Linked DNA regions of Homo sapiens: region 1 is linked to region 2. A link means that fine-mapping ties the variant in region 2 to the expression of a gene that starts in the linked region. Tissue or cell type: whole blood. Region 2 holds a variant in brackets; the other region holds the start of a gene. All regions are shown on one strand. Distances are from middle to middle.

What was found.
Region 1: it holds the start of MAP2K4, and the variant in region 2 is fine-mapped to the expression of MAP2K4 in whole blood (INTERVAL, PIP above 0.99).

What each region holds. Positions count from the first base shown.
Region 1 is chr17:12,017,240-12,025,569 of GRCh38, forward strand. MAP2K4 (mitogen-activated protein kinase kinase 4) reads left to right here and starts at 3,638. Exons shown (of 11, transcript NM_003010.4): 1 at 3,638-3,762. The coding sequence starts at 3,648. It also overlaps a transcript of ZNF18 not described here. RefSeq lists an enhancer at 3,438-3,938 and a silencer at 3,475-4,354.
Region 2 is chr17:12,099,193-12,107,532 of GRCh38, forward strand. The region is part of intron 4 of MAP2K4 (mitogen-activated protein kinase kinase 4); the gene reads left to right. Among named protein-coding and RNA genes, the nearest start is that of MIR744, 21 kb to the left of the region's middle. The variant G/A (reference allele first, on the strand shown) is at 4,271.

The DNA of each region.
Region 1 (8,330 bases), 82 kb before region 2:
AAACTTTGGTTCTTTAATGGCATGAACTGGTCAAAGTTTCTCACAGGCCCTGTATTTCCAATTAAATTCAGTGCTCGAATGACATCCAGAAACCTGCACAGCTTGCAGCTCTCTGCCTGAAGAGGCAACATCCGTCACTGGGTGGCCTGGTCCTGAGCCCTTGGCAATTTGAGGGTGGGCGTTTTGCTCAAAGACAATTGCTAAGGCTATATGGAATATCTGGTGACTGTTCCATCCAAATAGAGGTGTCTGACCTTGTTTCTTTCCCAGAGGCTGAAATTGGGGTCCTAAGGTGAAATCCAGTTGTAAATTACTTTTTCTTTATTTGGAATGTGAAATGAAAAATGTATTCTTGAGGCTGGGTGCAGTGGCTCACCCTTGTAATCCCAGCATTTTGGGAGGCTGAGGCAGGCAGATCACCTAAGGTCGGGAGTTCGAGACCAGCCTGAACAATATGGTGAAACCCCGTCTCTACTAAAAGTAAAAAATTAACCAGGTGTGGTGGCACATGCCTGTAATCCCAGCTACTCGGGAGGCTGAGGCAGGAGAATCACTTGTGCCCAGGAAGCGGAGGTTGCAGTGAGCCGAGATCGCGCCATTGCACTCCAGCCTGGGCAACAAGAGCGAAACACCATCTCAAAAAAAAAAAAAAATGTATTTTTAGTCTAACCATTGACATATGTATCATAAAAAACAAGCAAGCTAGATTTCTCAACAAAGGTTCTCTAAGCAAGGAATACACAGACGTTACTCTTTCTCTGCAGCCTCTTTCAGGATGGGGGACTTTGATATTGCCATACATTCCTCTTAGAAATCATCTTAATTTGTTATTTTCATCTACTCTAGTGGGAAGATAAAATCACTACATGGCAGAGCCAGGAGTTTCAGGCCCATTTGGGGATTTCCTCAAGGATATCTTATAAATGTAAATTTGCTGGTTATTCATATGTATTGCTTAATTGCCTTCCCGTCTCCCCAGTGATTATGCCAGCTACCACCATTATTACTAAAAAGGTTAACTTTTTTTAAGCAATTCATTTTTCTGAACTGTGTATTAGTTTGCTAAGGGATGTCATAGCAAAAGAACCAATAAACAACATAAATGTATTTTCTCACAGTTATGGAGGCTGGAAGTCCAAGGTGTAGGCAGAGTTGGTGTCTTTTGAGGACACACTCTGTGGCTTGTAGATGATCATCTTCTCCTAGCTCTGTGTGTCTGCATCCTAATCTCTTTATAAAGACACCAGTCCTATTGGATTAGGGCCCACTCGTATGACCTCATTTTACTTTAAAGACCCTATTTCCAAATATAGTCCCATTCTGAGATGCTGGGGGTTAGGACTCCAACATGTAAATTTGGTGAGGGAGCAGAATACAATTTAGTCCATAAGAAATCATAAAACACAAATATGTAAGAGAAATGTGAGCATAAGAAAAAGTTAAAAAGCTCATACATAGCTTCCTCAGTTGGAACAAATCAAAGTGCTTTCTTGTTTTTGCCATATGCACATCTAATTATTGGCTCTTACTAGTTTACAATACCAACAGCAATGCAAGTATATGTCAGTTTTATCACAAACTCAGAATTAGGTATTCTTAAAAATAAGATTAGTTATATTTTTATTGTATTTCTCTTTTAATTCAGTTTCCCAATTTCCCTTAATGAATTTGCTAGGTTGAAGGTTTTCCTATATATATATAAATATAACTATATATATACATATTTTTTTTAATAGATGGAGTCTTGCTCTGTCACCCAGGCTGGAGTGCAGTGGCACAATCTCGGCTCACTGCAACCTCTGCCTCCCAGGTTCAAGCGATTCTCCTGCCTCAGCCTCCCTAGTAGCTGGGATTATAGGTACCTGCCACCACACCGGCTAATTTTTGTTTTTTTCTGTATTTTTAGTAGAGACAGGGTTTCACCACGTTGGCCAGGCTGGTCACTAACTCCTGACCTCACGTAATCCACCCGCCTTGGCCTCCCAAAGTGCTGGGATTACAGGTGTGAGCCAACATCCCCAGCCTTCTTTAATATATGTTATTTATAATATTGGATGTGTGTGTGTGTGTGTGTGTGTGTGTGTGTGTGTGTGTGTGTTTAAATTAATTTTCTAGTAGTTGCCTAATCTGTAGTGCTGCTTCTAGGATTTCTATTAAAAGAATATATATTAAATTCTTATTAAAGGCCAGTTATGATGGCTCATAATTAAGATGCCCTAGGAGCAACAAGAGCTGGGTGGGCTACTGATTTCCAGATGGGAATCTGGCCATGTTTATAAGACCTGGACTTGAAGATATTGGGCAGCCAACGAGGCCCATGGAGGAGAATTCTGGCGGGCTCTCCACTGAAGTACACCTACCTGCTCTCACCTTCAATTTGCCTTTAATGCCTCTCCACTTGATGTTTACGGCTAGCCACTTTTAGGATCTGAGCCATCAAGATGATGGATGAAATTGGGTTTGGAACAAGAAGGCAGGGCTATTTTGACCCAGGACACATTTCCAACATGCTGTGAAGAACTCTCAGCATCAAATAACATCTGGGTGGAAGAAGTTTTGGGAAAGAAGTCTAGCTGTAGATCACACAATGCTTCTAAATGGGAGAAAATGTCCAGCTCCATGGCTTAGATTCTTTGGGAAGTAGGATAACTGGCTATTCCATTTTAGGCAAGGCTGCCTGGCCAGAAACCCATGTCTTACCATTTCGAGTACATTATGGTTGGCTTACAAATCGTAGCCTCATAGAGAACTTTTTCTTCTTTTAGCTACTGTCTTCCTAAAATAAAAGTCTCTGTGCAAAGCAATGGAAGAAACCTCATATTGTTTTTTGGGGTTGTCATTTTATGTAACTTACAATAATGACTACGGCTCGTCTTATACAAGATGTAAAGGATTTGGGAGAGGGAATCCAGTGTGCATTTAGGGGAAGATGGTGATGTAGATAGCATATTTCAGGAGGCTGGGAAGTGTCGAGTGCTTAAATATATGCTTCTCAAATTTAATGGGCATACAAATTACCTGGTGGTATTATTAAAATGTAACCTCTAATTCAGTAGTTTTGGGATGGGTCCATGGACAGCACTTTGGTTAGTTCCCCTTGGGACTCCCCTTTCCCCTCAGAGAAGTGTAGAGGGTTGGGGTATTGGGCTTAAGAGGAGTTCCAGACTGTAACCATAGCTCTAGGTAACTCCCTTCTGGAAGTGATGTGTTAGCGACTGGAGGAGAAAGGGATCCCTGGGATCCTTTTCAGCTTTACTATTCTGATTTGGGGTTCTGAGATTCCAACAAAGTGGACTTTTGGGAGTCACAGACCTCCATGGGAATGATGAAAGCTGCGTACCTTCTTTCCGCACAAATGCAGGCCCACCTTTAATTCTGCAAACCACTTTAGGCCCCGCGGGCCCGCAGCCCTGGTCCAAGACAGCTGTCTGCTTCACAGGTCGCGCACCCAGAGCCGGGCGGTTCTGCAGCTCAGCATCTGGCCCGGGCTGCGCGTCGGGCTCTGGCGGGGGCGTGTCAGGAGGCGTGTCCGGGGCGTGTCGGAGGCGGGGCCAAGGCGGGGGTAAGCCTCGCCCCTCGGCCGTGCGAGAGGCCGAGCTTGCTGCATTGCAGCCGCCGCGGCGCCGCTCGGCTCTTCACTCCCAACAATGGCGGCTCCGAGCCCGAGCGGCGGCGGCGGCTCCGGGGGCGGCAGCGGCAGCGGCACCCCCGGCCCCGTAGGGTCCCCGGCGCCAGGCCACCCGGCCGTCAGCAGCATGCAGGGTAAGGAACGCGGCCGCGCCGAGATCCCAGCCCCCTAGCGCGGCAACCCGCGTCGTCGCGGCCTGCCCCAGCGGACGCCCCCGGACCCGGCTGAGGAAGCCACGGCAGCCGCCGGCTTCTCCCTCTCTCCCTCCCCGGCTTCCCGCCCCGCTCCCGGCCGCCTCCGGCCCGGCTTGGATCCGGGCTCCGGCCCGCATAGGCCCCGGCCGCGGCCTCTGCCTGCGCTTGGCCCCTGGGCCCTACCGGGCTCTCAGCAGGCCCGCAGGGCCCACCTGGTCCGGGACCGCCCCCGCGGCCGTCCCCATCGCCCCCGCCGCTTACCTGGCGCCCGCCCGGCCCCCGTTTCCGGGAACGCGCCGGCTCGGGGCTGCGGCGGAGCGGGAGGGGCGTCGGGCCTGCCCCCTGGTCCCTGACGCCGCTCAGGTAGGCGGCGAAGACAGCGGCCCCGGCCGGCGCCCCTCGGCCCCGCCGCCGCAGTGGGCCCCGCTCAGGGCCATCTTGGCTGTCGCCGGGCACAGCTGGAGCCGGACCACCGAGCTGACCTCGGGCTACGGGGGCCTCTTGGAACCTGCGTTTTCAAACTTTTGCAGGGTTTCTGTGCGCTGGAAGGGATGGGGGTGGGGGGCGGGTTGCCCAGGCCTGTGCCACCTGTAAGGTAGGTAGGCTGCATTGGCCTGGGAGAGGCATTTTGTTCCAGGCCAGGGATTTCTGTGTTAGCATTGCGTGCAGGAAGAAAAAAAAAAAAAAAAAAAAAGAAGACTTAATTTGGTTTAAATGGAGAGATACAGGAAATAGACAGGGGTCAAAGTGATACTGTAGTGTCTGGACATTTGAGGCAGCTCTGCTAATTAATGACTTTCCCCACTGGGAATGCTTATTAGCTGTGTATGGCTTTTGACAGGGGGTGTTGTGAAAATACCAGGCCAGGCCCGAGCCTGTTAGGGACCATTTCCTTAAATTTACTGGGGAATTTTGAGTAGTAATGCTATTTTTAAAACAGGGAATCTCAGAACTCTCTTGACAACTTTAGCAAACTGCTTGTGTTGAATTATTAACAGAATAAGGGTTGGGGTACCCTTGGTAGTCAGTGTGACCATGGTTACTTTTTGATTCCATTCCTCTTAAAGGGCTTCTAGCATTTAGTTAGGTTCAACAGACATTTATTGAATAGTTCATGTTTATAGAGCATGCCATAATTCAGAAAGAAGAGACAGGATTTTATTTATCTTTACATCCCTGTCACCCTCCCCATGAAATAATTTTAATATACATAAAAACCAGTGATAGATATATAGACAGGATGATGTCAGAGCTTAGAGGACACTTTCTGTGCAGGCCCTCAGATAATTCATTCAAATTGAATTAGTTATTGGATGCCCACTGTGTTGCACAGCACATTATACTGATGAAGTATAAGATTGACTTCCTGACTGTACAGCTTTACAATTTAGGTGGTGGTGGTTGGGGCGAAATGAAATGGCAAAATGACAATTTAGGATTGTATTTCTTGTTCCAGATGGGTGACTTACAAAGCTTATAAAAACAAGGTGATTTGTTTGTTTGTTTTATTGGTGGGGAGGCTGACAGTTTGAAATAGCTGGATACAGTGTGTTTTTTTGGTTCAAAAAATATTTATTGAGCATCTGCATAAAACGCTCATGCTGAGTTTATAGAGAATTGAACATCTCTAACTGTCCTCATGGAGGTTATCCCCCTGTGAAGATGGGGGAGGGAAGGCTATTTAGCTAAACATGAAAAATTACTAGTTGGAAAAGTAATAAAGGTAACAAGCTGGGTTTTGTGATAGAAGATAATAGAGGGCAGTCCGCTTGATAAGATGGTCAGAGAAGGCTTGTCTGGAAAGCTAACCCTCTTTTACCTGAAGACGGTTCTAGGCAGAGGAACTGTGTGTATGAAGGTTCCAAAGCAGGGAAGAGCTTGGAGTGTTCTAGGAACTCCTAAGGCAGTGGTTAGGACTTTTTCTGATGCTGTCCGTTCTCCTCAGCCCTTGTATGTTGATACCCAGTTAACTAAACTTTCTAATAAGCAGAACCCATTTTAGAAGGAAAAAGGACCTAAGACCTCTCTATGAATTATTGCCGAATTTTCTTTTTTATCAATATTGTGTCTAGTCTTGATTGATTCAGGAATGTGTTATATCTTGTTCTTGAAACTTTTTTCATTAGTCAGAATGAAGTGCTTGATATTCTCAGGATGTTGTCTAGAACAGTCTGTTATAAAGCTTGAACTTAAGCAGCAATTTAGGATCCTTCTTTTTGGTTTGTTTTGTTCTGTATCTTAATTGTGAGGCCCTTGAAGAGGAAATCTTATAAGAACCCAAAAAGAAAGATTCCCATCCAATTGTATGGGAGTCACACCTCCCATACTGTACTTCATCTGCCAAGGGTCTTCTTTTGCTTTAGATCAGACTTCACAGAGTGGGCCTTAGAAGATGTTTGATGTACTTCCATTCCTTCTCCCCCAATCTAATTATACTTGCCACTCAAAAAACTTCCTTTCTGGGAGTTGTTAATGACCATGCTCTCTGAAACAGCAGGATTCAGTTGTGGAACATAAGGAATGTTTCATGCAGTAGACATTGGACATCCTCTTATGTGGTAAGCACTGTGGTGGGCACTGGATAACCTTGAATACTTTTTCATGGCTTCATGTTTATGGCCCAAGAGTGGTCCAGGCTGGCCAATATTGCTTTCTTAATATACTGCTTAAGAACCAGAGCTCTGGAGTTCTGGGTTTGAATCTCTTGGCCAGGATTCAGATATGCGTTTTGTGACCAGGGGCAATGAACTTGGCCTTTCGAAGCCTCAGTTTCTCACTTGGAAAGTGGGAATAACGCTTACCTCCCCGGTGGCTTTGAGAATGCATGTAAGCCTGGGACCTGACATGTAGTAAGGATGCAATACACATTAGCCATCATTGTTAGTAGCGACAATATTGTTATGGTCTCATTAATGGTCCCTTTTACTATTGGTAAATGAGTCCCTAACCTCTCATTATTTACCACACAATTTCTTTAGTTCATATTACTAGGTCCCACTGTTCTCTCTAACCTGTTGATTTCCCCACTTTTCATTATTGAGCAGTCCTTTCAGAGTATCCTAGATGAGATTTTATTCTACTTCAAACTCCGGATCTGTTTTTTTCTGGATCTGAGGACTCTCAAATGAATTACAATGTGAACGATATGAAACAGAAGTCTAGCTATCAATTTGCTCTACTCATTTTTTTCATAGGGGATGGGTAGATGGTTGGAATGGGATTTATAGTGAATTTGATTATAAGAGTAATCAACAGACGTAGCTTTGGTTGCATGTTTATGCTAACAGTTATGGCTTCTAATCTGGCCATTTTTGCCACTGTCCCTCAGATAATAGGGAATAGCTGCTAATTTTGTTATTACTCAAAAGATTTGAGTGTCTTCACTCATTCTGACTCATTTTTTTTTCATGTTCATTCACAAACACACCCAACCTTTATACGTTGAGTAGTTCTTAGGCTTTGGTTCTTTGATGACTAAAGCTAACAAAATGTAGATCTGTTTGCCAAGTTAGGTAAGTGGTTTTATGAAAGTATATTTGGCATTAGGATGAGTTTGCATTTGAGAGAGGAAACAATACTCAAATTAACTACTCTGAGAAATGTTTTTATTCTTAATGTTTCATCAATAATTTGTTAATGTAGATAGATTTAATAGGAAAATTTCTTGCATATTAGGGCCTCATTCTGTGGAAAAGTATTATTCTTTAGTCCAAGAAATTTTAGCCAACCTAAAGTACGGAATTGACTTGTAGCATTCAAGAACCTTCCTAGCCATGGCTAGGGCTTTCCCTTGTGGCAAATCTAAAGCCTCGTGACTTTAGCTGGGTTAGTGTGAATCCTGTAAAGAGAAGATCCCGTTATACCAGGTAATTAATCTTAGATATGTATAGCAAATAGTACTAGATAGTATGGTTGGCATGTTAGAGAATAGCATATTCTGATTAATAGAGCTTGCCAGTTGAGAATTCAACAGCTTCTATAATGAAATTGCATAGGCAGGATGATTCCTTTTCCAGTAGTAGCTGTAGCAGCTAGCGTTCCCATAGCATGTAGTAATGTTTAAGAAACAAAAGGATGTTGAAGTGTAAAGAGCACTGGACTTAGACTCAGAAAACCATGGTTAAGGTAACTGCTCTGCTGTTTACAAACACTGAGATTTTAGGGAAATTCCCTAACTTTTCTCAACTCTCTGTTCAGAAATTTCTCATCTGTTAAAATAGGGATAATGCCTAACCTGTAGGGCCATTGTAAGAATCACATTCTTAATGCATGTGAAAGTGCTTTGAAAATTATAGAATATCTATAAGTATATACAGATTGTTATTAGACATGATTATTTGCCTGCTGTAGCTACTAATCACTTAAAATGTAATAGATTTCAAAGATCGCTTAGCTGAGAAATGTCAGTTTTCAATAGATGTTTTCTTAAAATGGTTAGAATAGAATCTATAATTGATTCAGAAAAACATTGAGCCATTTGTAAAATACTTGTTACAAGAAATAGTTAG
Region 2 (8,340 bases):
CCAGTGTATCCGTGTTGCTACAAAAAAAAAAAAACATGATTTCATTCTTTTTTTAATGGCTGTCACTGTCTATTGTGTATATATGTCACATTTTTAAAAATGTGGACATTTAGGTTGATTCTGTGACTTTGCTATTATACATAGTGCTGCCATAAGCATACCAGTGCAGATACCTTTTTGATATAATGATTTATTTTTCTTTGGGTAGATACCCAGTAGTAGGATTGCTGGATCAAATGGTAGTTCCACTAATTAGAGATTAATCTTGCTGTTGGGTAATATTGAGCTTCTGAAAGTTCCGTCACTTATTCAAAGCAGTGAATAATCCTTAATACTGAAGTTGGTAACTTCTATGTTGCCACTATCTTCAACCATGCATACTTCTTTCTAGGATGGAACCAACCTCAAAAAGAAAAGTCCAAAGTACAGCTTGGATTTGGTTTAGATAAGTTATTAGGTCACTCAGTTGCACAGGTTCCTAAAAGTCATTTTCAGGCTTTGTAGGTAGGTGGAAAAAAGAGCTTGATAATAATTGAATAATGGAAGTAACTTTTAGCCTATATTTTACAAAAAAGACCTACCATTTATCTTAACAGTGCTGAAACCTAGTATCACTTAAAAATTTTTCTAATACATAAAATTTGAGAATTTCATAGCAGGTAAACTCTTATTTTAAACATCTTTTGAGGTTGGGCAATAAATTCTAGTGCAGAAAGCACTGTTCTGAGTAACTTGTGAATGTAGAAGTTCATCAGATTATAGAAGGCAGTGATGCTGGCTGAAGCAAGTTACCTCCCCCTTTTTTATCCTTACTTCCACCCCTCTTCTCCTTTCCCTCTTCTTTCTCCTTGCAAGTTTTAAATGCAGCTTATGGAGGTAAAATTGACATCTGATAAACTTCCCACATGTAAAGTGTACAGTTTGATATGTTTGAACAAATGTATACACCTGTAGAATTATCACCAAAATCAAGGTAATGAATATGCCCATCACTTACGAGTTTCCTTACACCACGTAGGTAATACCTGCCACCTCTCTGCTGTCCCCATTCTCAGATAACCACTGACCTGCTTTATGCCATTATAGATTAATTTGTATTTTTCTAGATTTTATGTAAACGGAATCTTACAGTATGTACTTCTCTTTTTCAGTTTGTCGTCTTTCATTCAGTATAATTATCTTGCATTTATCAGTCATTTATTTCTTTGTATTGCCAAGTACTATCTGTAATGTTCCATTATGCAGATCTATCAGTTTGTTACTCATTTACCTGTTGATGGCCATTTGGATTGTTTTCAGTTTTTGTCTGTTACTAATAAAGTTGCTTTGAGCATTTATGTACAATTGTTTGTACATAAGCTTTTATTTTCCTGGGGTAATTACATGGGGGTGGAATGGCTGGATCATATGGTAGGTGTATGTTTAACTTTTTAAAAAATGGACAAACTTTTTTCTAAGGTAGTTGTACCATTTTATACTTTCACCAGTAGTTTTTGAGAGTTCAGCTTCTTCCATGTCTATTCCAGCACTTAGTGTGATGTGTTGTGTTAATCTTTAGCCGTTCTAGTAAATGTGTGGTGGAATCTCTGTATTTTTAATTTGCATGTTTCTAATGACTAACAGTGTTGAATGTCTTTTCATGTGCTTATTTACCAACCGTATATCTTTGATGAAGTTCCTGTTAAAATCTGTTGTACATTTTTATTTAAATTGGGTTTTTTTGTTATTCGGTTTTGGGAGGTTTTTAAAAATGTGTTTTGAATACAAGTTTATTATCAGACCTATGATTTGCAGATACTGTCTCCTGTCTGCGCTTATCTTTATATATATCTATTCTTCACAGTGTTTTTGGAGAGCAAAAGTTTTTAATGTTGATATAGGCCAATTTTTAAATTTGTGTATTGTGCTTTTGATGTTGTGTATAAGAGCTCTTGTCTAACTCAAGCTCACTTAAGATTATCTCTTATGTATTCTCCTAGCAGTTTTATAGTTTTAGGTATCACATTTATACTTATCCATTTGGAGTTAGTTTTTATATATATCGAGAGTTATATATTGATGATTTTTTTTTGCATGTGGATATCCTTTGCACCTTTATCAGATATCAGTTGTCCATACAGATGTGTGTCTATTTCTGGAGTATCTGCTCTGTTCCATTGATCTGTTGTTTTTCTGTCTTTGCACTGATCTCACATGGTCTTGGACTACTCCAGCTTTATAGAAAGTCTTCAGATTTGAGAGTGTTGGTCCTTAAACTTTGTTCTTTTAAAAGTTGTTTCGGCTCTTTCATATCCTTTCTATTTTCATGTGGATTTTAGAATCCACTTGTCGATTTCTACCAAAAAACCCGAAAAAAACCAACAACAAAAAAACAACCTGCTGAAATTTTTATTGGGATTTTTCTAATTTGTAGGTCTACTGGGGGAGCATTGATATCTTAACAGTATTAAGTCTGTTGACCCTTTTTTGTGGCATCTCACTTTATTATTTTACATCTTCTTTAATTTTTCTCAGCAATATTTTATAGTTTTCGCTGTATAAGTCTTTCATGCTTTTGCTAGAGTTGCCCTTAAGTGTATAATATTTTTAATGCTAATACGTATTTTTAAATTTAATTTTCTCATGTGACTAAATGCACAAATATCATTTGATTTTTTTATATTGATCTTGTGTGCAGCAACCTTGCTAAACTCAAATTCCAGTAGCTTTTTTTACCTGCCTTCAGATTTACTACATAGATCATCATTTTGTCTGTGAATAAAGAGAGTTACTCCTTTCTTTCCCAATTAGTTCCTTTATTTATTTTTGTCTTGCCTTATTGCACTGGCTGGAACCTTCAGTATGCTGTTGAGTAGATACAGTGAGAGTAGACATCCTTGTTTTTTTTCCTGATCCTAGAGGGAAAGCATTCATGTTTCCTTCATTAAATATGATATTAGCTGTGGACTTTTCATATATATATATTTTTAATCAGGTTAAGGAAGTTTCTTTTTACTCCTAGTTTGCTGAGAGATTTTGTCAGGAATGGATGTTAGATTTTTGTCAAATTCTTTTTCCAGATCCTTGAGATGTTTTTGAGATGTATGGTTTGTTTGTTGTTTTAATAATGGTGAGTTATATGAATTGATCTCAGATATTAAACATAGCTTTTATTTCTGGGAGAAATCCAGTTGGTTAGGATGTTTTATCTTTTTTATCTATCATTGGATTCAATTTGTTAAATTACTAAAATTTAGCTAATTTGCTAAAATTCATTTAAAATTTTTGTATCTATGAGAGACATTGATGTATAGTTTTCTTTTCTTATTTTTGTCTGACTTGCATCATTGTAATGCTAGCCTCATAGGATGAGTTGGGAAGTATTTCTTCTTCCTGAATTTTCTGGAAGAATTTATATAGAATTGGTATTATTTTTTCTGTAAGTATTTGATGGAATTTACCAATGAAGCCACTTGAACTTGGCAATTTCTTTGTGAGAATATTTTTGACTGAATATCCAGCTTCTTTCAAAGATATAGTTCTATTCAAGTTACGTATTTCTTGTCGAGTGATCTTTGGTATTTGTTTCTTTGAAGAAATTTATCCCTTTCATCTAAATTATCAAATTTATTGGAATAAAATTATTCATAATATTTCTTTTTTATTATTTTAATATTGGTAGAGTCTGTAGTGTGTTACTTCTGTCTTCCCTGTCTCCCCCTCCCTCCCACTTGTTTCTGATACTGGTAATTTATGTCTTCTTTTTTTCTTCCCAATTAGTCCAGCTAGAGGTTTATCAATGTTATTGATGATCTCGATGAACCAGCTAGCTCTCAGTTAAATGATTTTCTTTTCTTTTCTTATCTTTAAAAAAAAAAAAAAAAAAAAGTCAGGGTCTTGCTCTGTGGCCCAGGCTGGAGTGCAGTGGCATCATCCTAGCTCAACCCAACCTTGAACTCCTGGGCTCAAGGGATCTTCCCACATCAGTCTCCTGAGTAGCTGGGACTACAGGCATGCACTACCACCACCCTGCTAATTGAATTTTTTTTTTTTTTTTTGGAGGTGGGGTCTCACTTTGTTGACCAGGCTAGTCTCAAACTCCTGGCCTCAAGCCATCCTCCCACCTTGGCCCCCTAAAGCATTGGAATTACAGGTGTGAGCCATGGCGTCTGGCCTCCGTTACATGATTTTCTGTATTGCTTTTCTATTATTATTTTTTTTGACGGGGAGCGGTGTTCGTTCTGATTGTGGTTTCTTCCTTTTACTTATTTTTGCTTAATTTGCTTTTTTT[G/A]TTTGTTTCTTAAGGTGGTCCATGTTCCTTTTAAACTGTGAAATTTTTTAAACATAGACTAAATTACAGAGGAGAAACAGCTACCCAAATCCTATATTGGCATATTTACTCTTTATATGTCTTCAAATATTATAAATAGAATTAAAGCCCTCATCACATTTCCCTTTCCAGATCTCATCACTACCCTGAGTGTTTCCTTTAACTTGTTTGTTTAGGTCATCCATATGTGCATTTTCCCCTACATTTTACATAATATCGCTTTATGTATTTTCACATTTAAGTAAATGGAATCCTATATGCGTTCTTTATTGTACATTTTATTCAACATAGTTTTATTCAACATAGTTTTCAAGATTTATGTAAATATAGATTCGTAATATACAGATTTAGTTAATTTATTTTAACTGTAGTATTCTAATGATTAAATACACCTTTTTATTTTATTTTTTTAGAAATAATCATAATGTAGATTGCTTCTCATTTTTTTATAATTATAAACAGCACAAAAATGAAGAATTGTTTTGCATGTCTCTTTGACAACTTAGGTTACAGATTATTTAGCATATGTCCCTGGAAATACAGTTACTAAATTTAATGATACAAATGTCTCCAACTGGAGTACCGACTTAAATTTCCACCAAAATTTCTATATCAATAATTGTATTTGGTATCAGCCATTCCTGACTGTTAGTAGCTTGCTTACTTTATAGTTTCAGTTGTTAAGGTTACCTCATGATCCACATTGGCTCCTAGAGTTCAGCTATCATGTCCACACGAAGGAAAAGAAAAGGGAAGAACTAAAAGGATTTTCCTGGAGTCACAAACCAGTGGTTTTGTGTTGATACCTCTTTGGCTGCCTTTCTATACTTTAAAGACTGGGAAATGTAGATTTTAGCCACATACATTGTACAGAGGAAAGGGGGAATGGTTATTTAGTATGCCATCAGCATTTACTGTCACAGATCTCCTTTTACCTGGTGTGTACTAACATTTGATAATAAACGTTTAATTTTTGGCAGTTTGAAATGGTATCTCACTTTTAAAATTGCATTTCCTTGATTGGTGAGATACAGAATTTTTTACATGTATTTAGGCTTTTTTTAAAAAAAAATTGCCTTTGATATAATTCTACTGAGTTTGGTCTTTCCCTAATTAGTTTAGCATAACTCTTTATTATTCAGGATACTGATCTTTTGTTTCTTTACATCCAAATAGATGTTTTTGTCTCTTATTTTTAAACTTTTGGTATGTTGTCCTTGTTTATACACAAGTGTTCATTATTATGGGGTTAAATTTAACAGGTCTTATCCTTTGTGATTTGTTGTTTTTATGTGTGTTCTTGGGAAAAATTTTTTTCCTATATAAAAGTCATGGAGAACTCTTAGAAAAAAAGTTTTAAACTTTTGCTTTTTGCAAAATCCATTTGGGAGTTTTTGTATATATATTTGTGAATGATTTAATGTCAGAATTTAATGTTTTTCTATATGGAAGGCCAGTTGTCCCAGCAGCATTCATTGAATAATGCATTCTTTTGCTATGATCTGCTTTGTTAACTTCTGTCATATATCAGATTTCTGTCTGTGCATGAACTTTTGCATCTGTTTCTTTGGTGTATTTATCTTTTATTTGTGATTGCTTCATAAAAAGTCTTTGTGTAGTAGGTCAGTATCTCTTCTTTAAAATTATCTTAGTTATTCTTGGCTCTACTTTAATATAAGCTTTAGGGTCAGCTTGTTCAGGTCCTTGAAAATTTTGATTAGAATTTAACTGAATTCTTAGATTAATTTGGGAGAATTTGACGTGCTTCTCATCTTGAATCTTCACATTTGTAATCATGGTCTGCTACTCCATTTGTTCAGGTTATTGTTATGTCCTTTAGTAACATTTTATATTTGTTTTCATAAAGGTTCTGCCTATTTTATTAGATACATTTCCTGGTGACTTAGTTTATATTTTTATTGAGAATGATATCTTTTTATTTTCGAATTAGTTATTGGTATATGTTATTGGTTATATACGGATCTTTAGGAACCCTTCCTTATGTTACCTTAGTAGTTGAGTTGTTCATCATTCTCCAGCTTTTTTTCCCCCAATAAACCCACATTTATTCACTTCTTCTGCATTTCAGACCTGTGGTCATCCTGTTTTCTGCTTGAGCATGACAGTCATGCTGCTGTCACTACCTTTTTCAGGCAGCTCAGAGCATTTCATTTTTTAAATGCAGCTCATTGCCATTGTGTTGTTTGTATGACCAAAAGGAACTGTCAGAGAGATAAGAAGGTTACATTAGGTTATGTTCCTTAAAAATCACAAAGACCTCTCTATCTCATTGCTCTTTTCTGTCCCCCCTTCTCATCTTCAGTTCTCGGTTTACTTGTTACCTTTATTCTCCCACTCCCATGTCCATCTTTCTCTTTTATTTGCCCACATTTCCCTTCCTTCTCCCTTCCATTTGGTAACTATAGTTTTTAGCACCTGCCAGGCACTTTAGTTTGTGCTTTGCATATGTTAACTCATTTGCCCTTTATCACAGTCCACTGAGGATGGTGGGGCAGTCTCATTTCATAGCTGAGGATGCGAGGAGGCCCAAGCTTATATAAGTAGAAAGTAGGAGAGCTTGGATAATGTCAGGCTTTTCAGACTCCTAATGTCATTTTTTTTTCCGCTTTGCTATATTATTGAGGTTGTTTCTTTCTACTGTTTTTATAAGTGGATGAAGTAAATGTGCTGTATGTCTCTAATAAGATTTTTTAGTAAACCTATTTAGATAGTGTCTCTAAAATAAAGCTGTGTCTGTTTTGGGTGGAGGGTGTTACTCGATCTTTCATGATAGCCATTCTCATAGATCACTCTAAAGAAAAAGAGATTTACAGAGAGAAGAAAGATTTAAATGCAGAAATAATAAGTAAAATTTACTACGTCAAATATGCTTTACAAAAACATTATGTATAGCCATGTATCTGTGAATGTTCTAGAAAGTGGTCCTTTTGTAAGAGTGCATGGCAAACGTTGATAGAAGAAACACATTAGGGACAGTGGATTCTATTCATGGGTAGTGTATTGTTCTGGGCAAGTAATTTTACTTTTAACAGGCATTAATCTCCTATATAATCCAAGGATAGGATTGATTATATAATTATTATATAATCGAAGGATAGGAGATTAATGGGTAGAAAATCTTTGATGATACAGCTGTATTTATAAATAAGTAACAACATACAGAACTGTATAATTTTTTAAAAATCATTTTGATAGTATTTTCATTTTTGTAAGGTACTTTGTAGTTCTTGTTCATCTGTGTATCCTGTACTTTTACAGTTATAATCATGGTATCTACTTTTATTTTTTATTTTTTCATGACTCATGCATCTCTCTCATGAACTGTATTCATTTTCAAAAAAATTGATTTTAGATAATCTCTTTAATGTTGTTGTATTCCCTTTTGTGAGATAGTTCCTCGGTTTCTAGTTTTGTTTTGTTTTTTCTTTTTGTAATTTATGGAACATTTAAGTTACATTCCCAGTCATAGGATGATTCTATAAAATGGTATCAACACATTTATTTCTGTTTTATTGTCAAATTGCTTTCAAATTGGTTTAAAACAATCTATAATGCAAGAAATGTTTGAATGATTCAGTTTAATTATAGCCAGCATCCAGTCATTTAACAAGTATTTATTGAGTCTTTGTTCTGGCAGAGGTTACATTCTAGTAGGGAATATATGAGACAAACATAATAAATAAGTAAATTACACTTTATATTAGAGGATGATGAAGGCTTTACAGAACAGAGCAGGATAAGGGAGTGCCTGATGGGATGACTTGCGCTTTGCATCAGTTAAAGTAGGCCTCACTGAGAAGGTGGCATTTGTACGGGGTCTTGAGGCATGGGATTTACTTTATGTATTTTTGTCTTTTTCCTTTTTTTTTTTTTTTTTTTGGCTAATTTAAGAAGTTTATGTAGTCTCTTAAGATTACTGTCATCTATTTTCATTGTTAGTAAGAATGGTTTTCTACACATTTCCTATTTTTTTTTCTATTTTGGCAAAATTTGAAATTTTAATGAAAGCA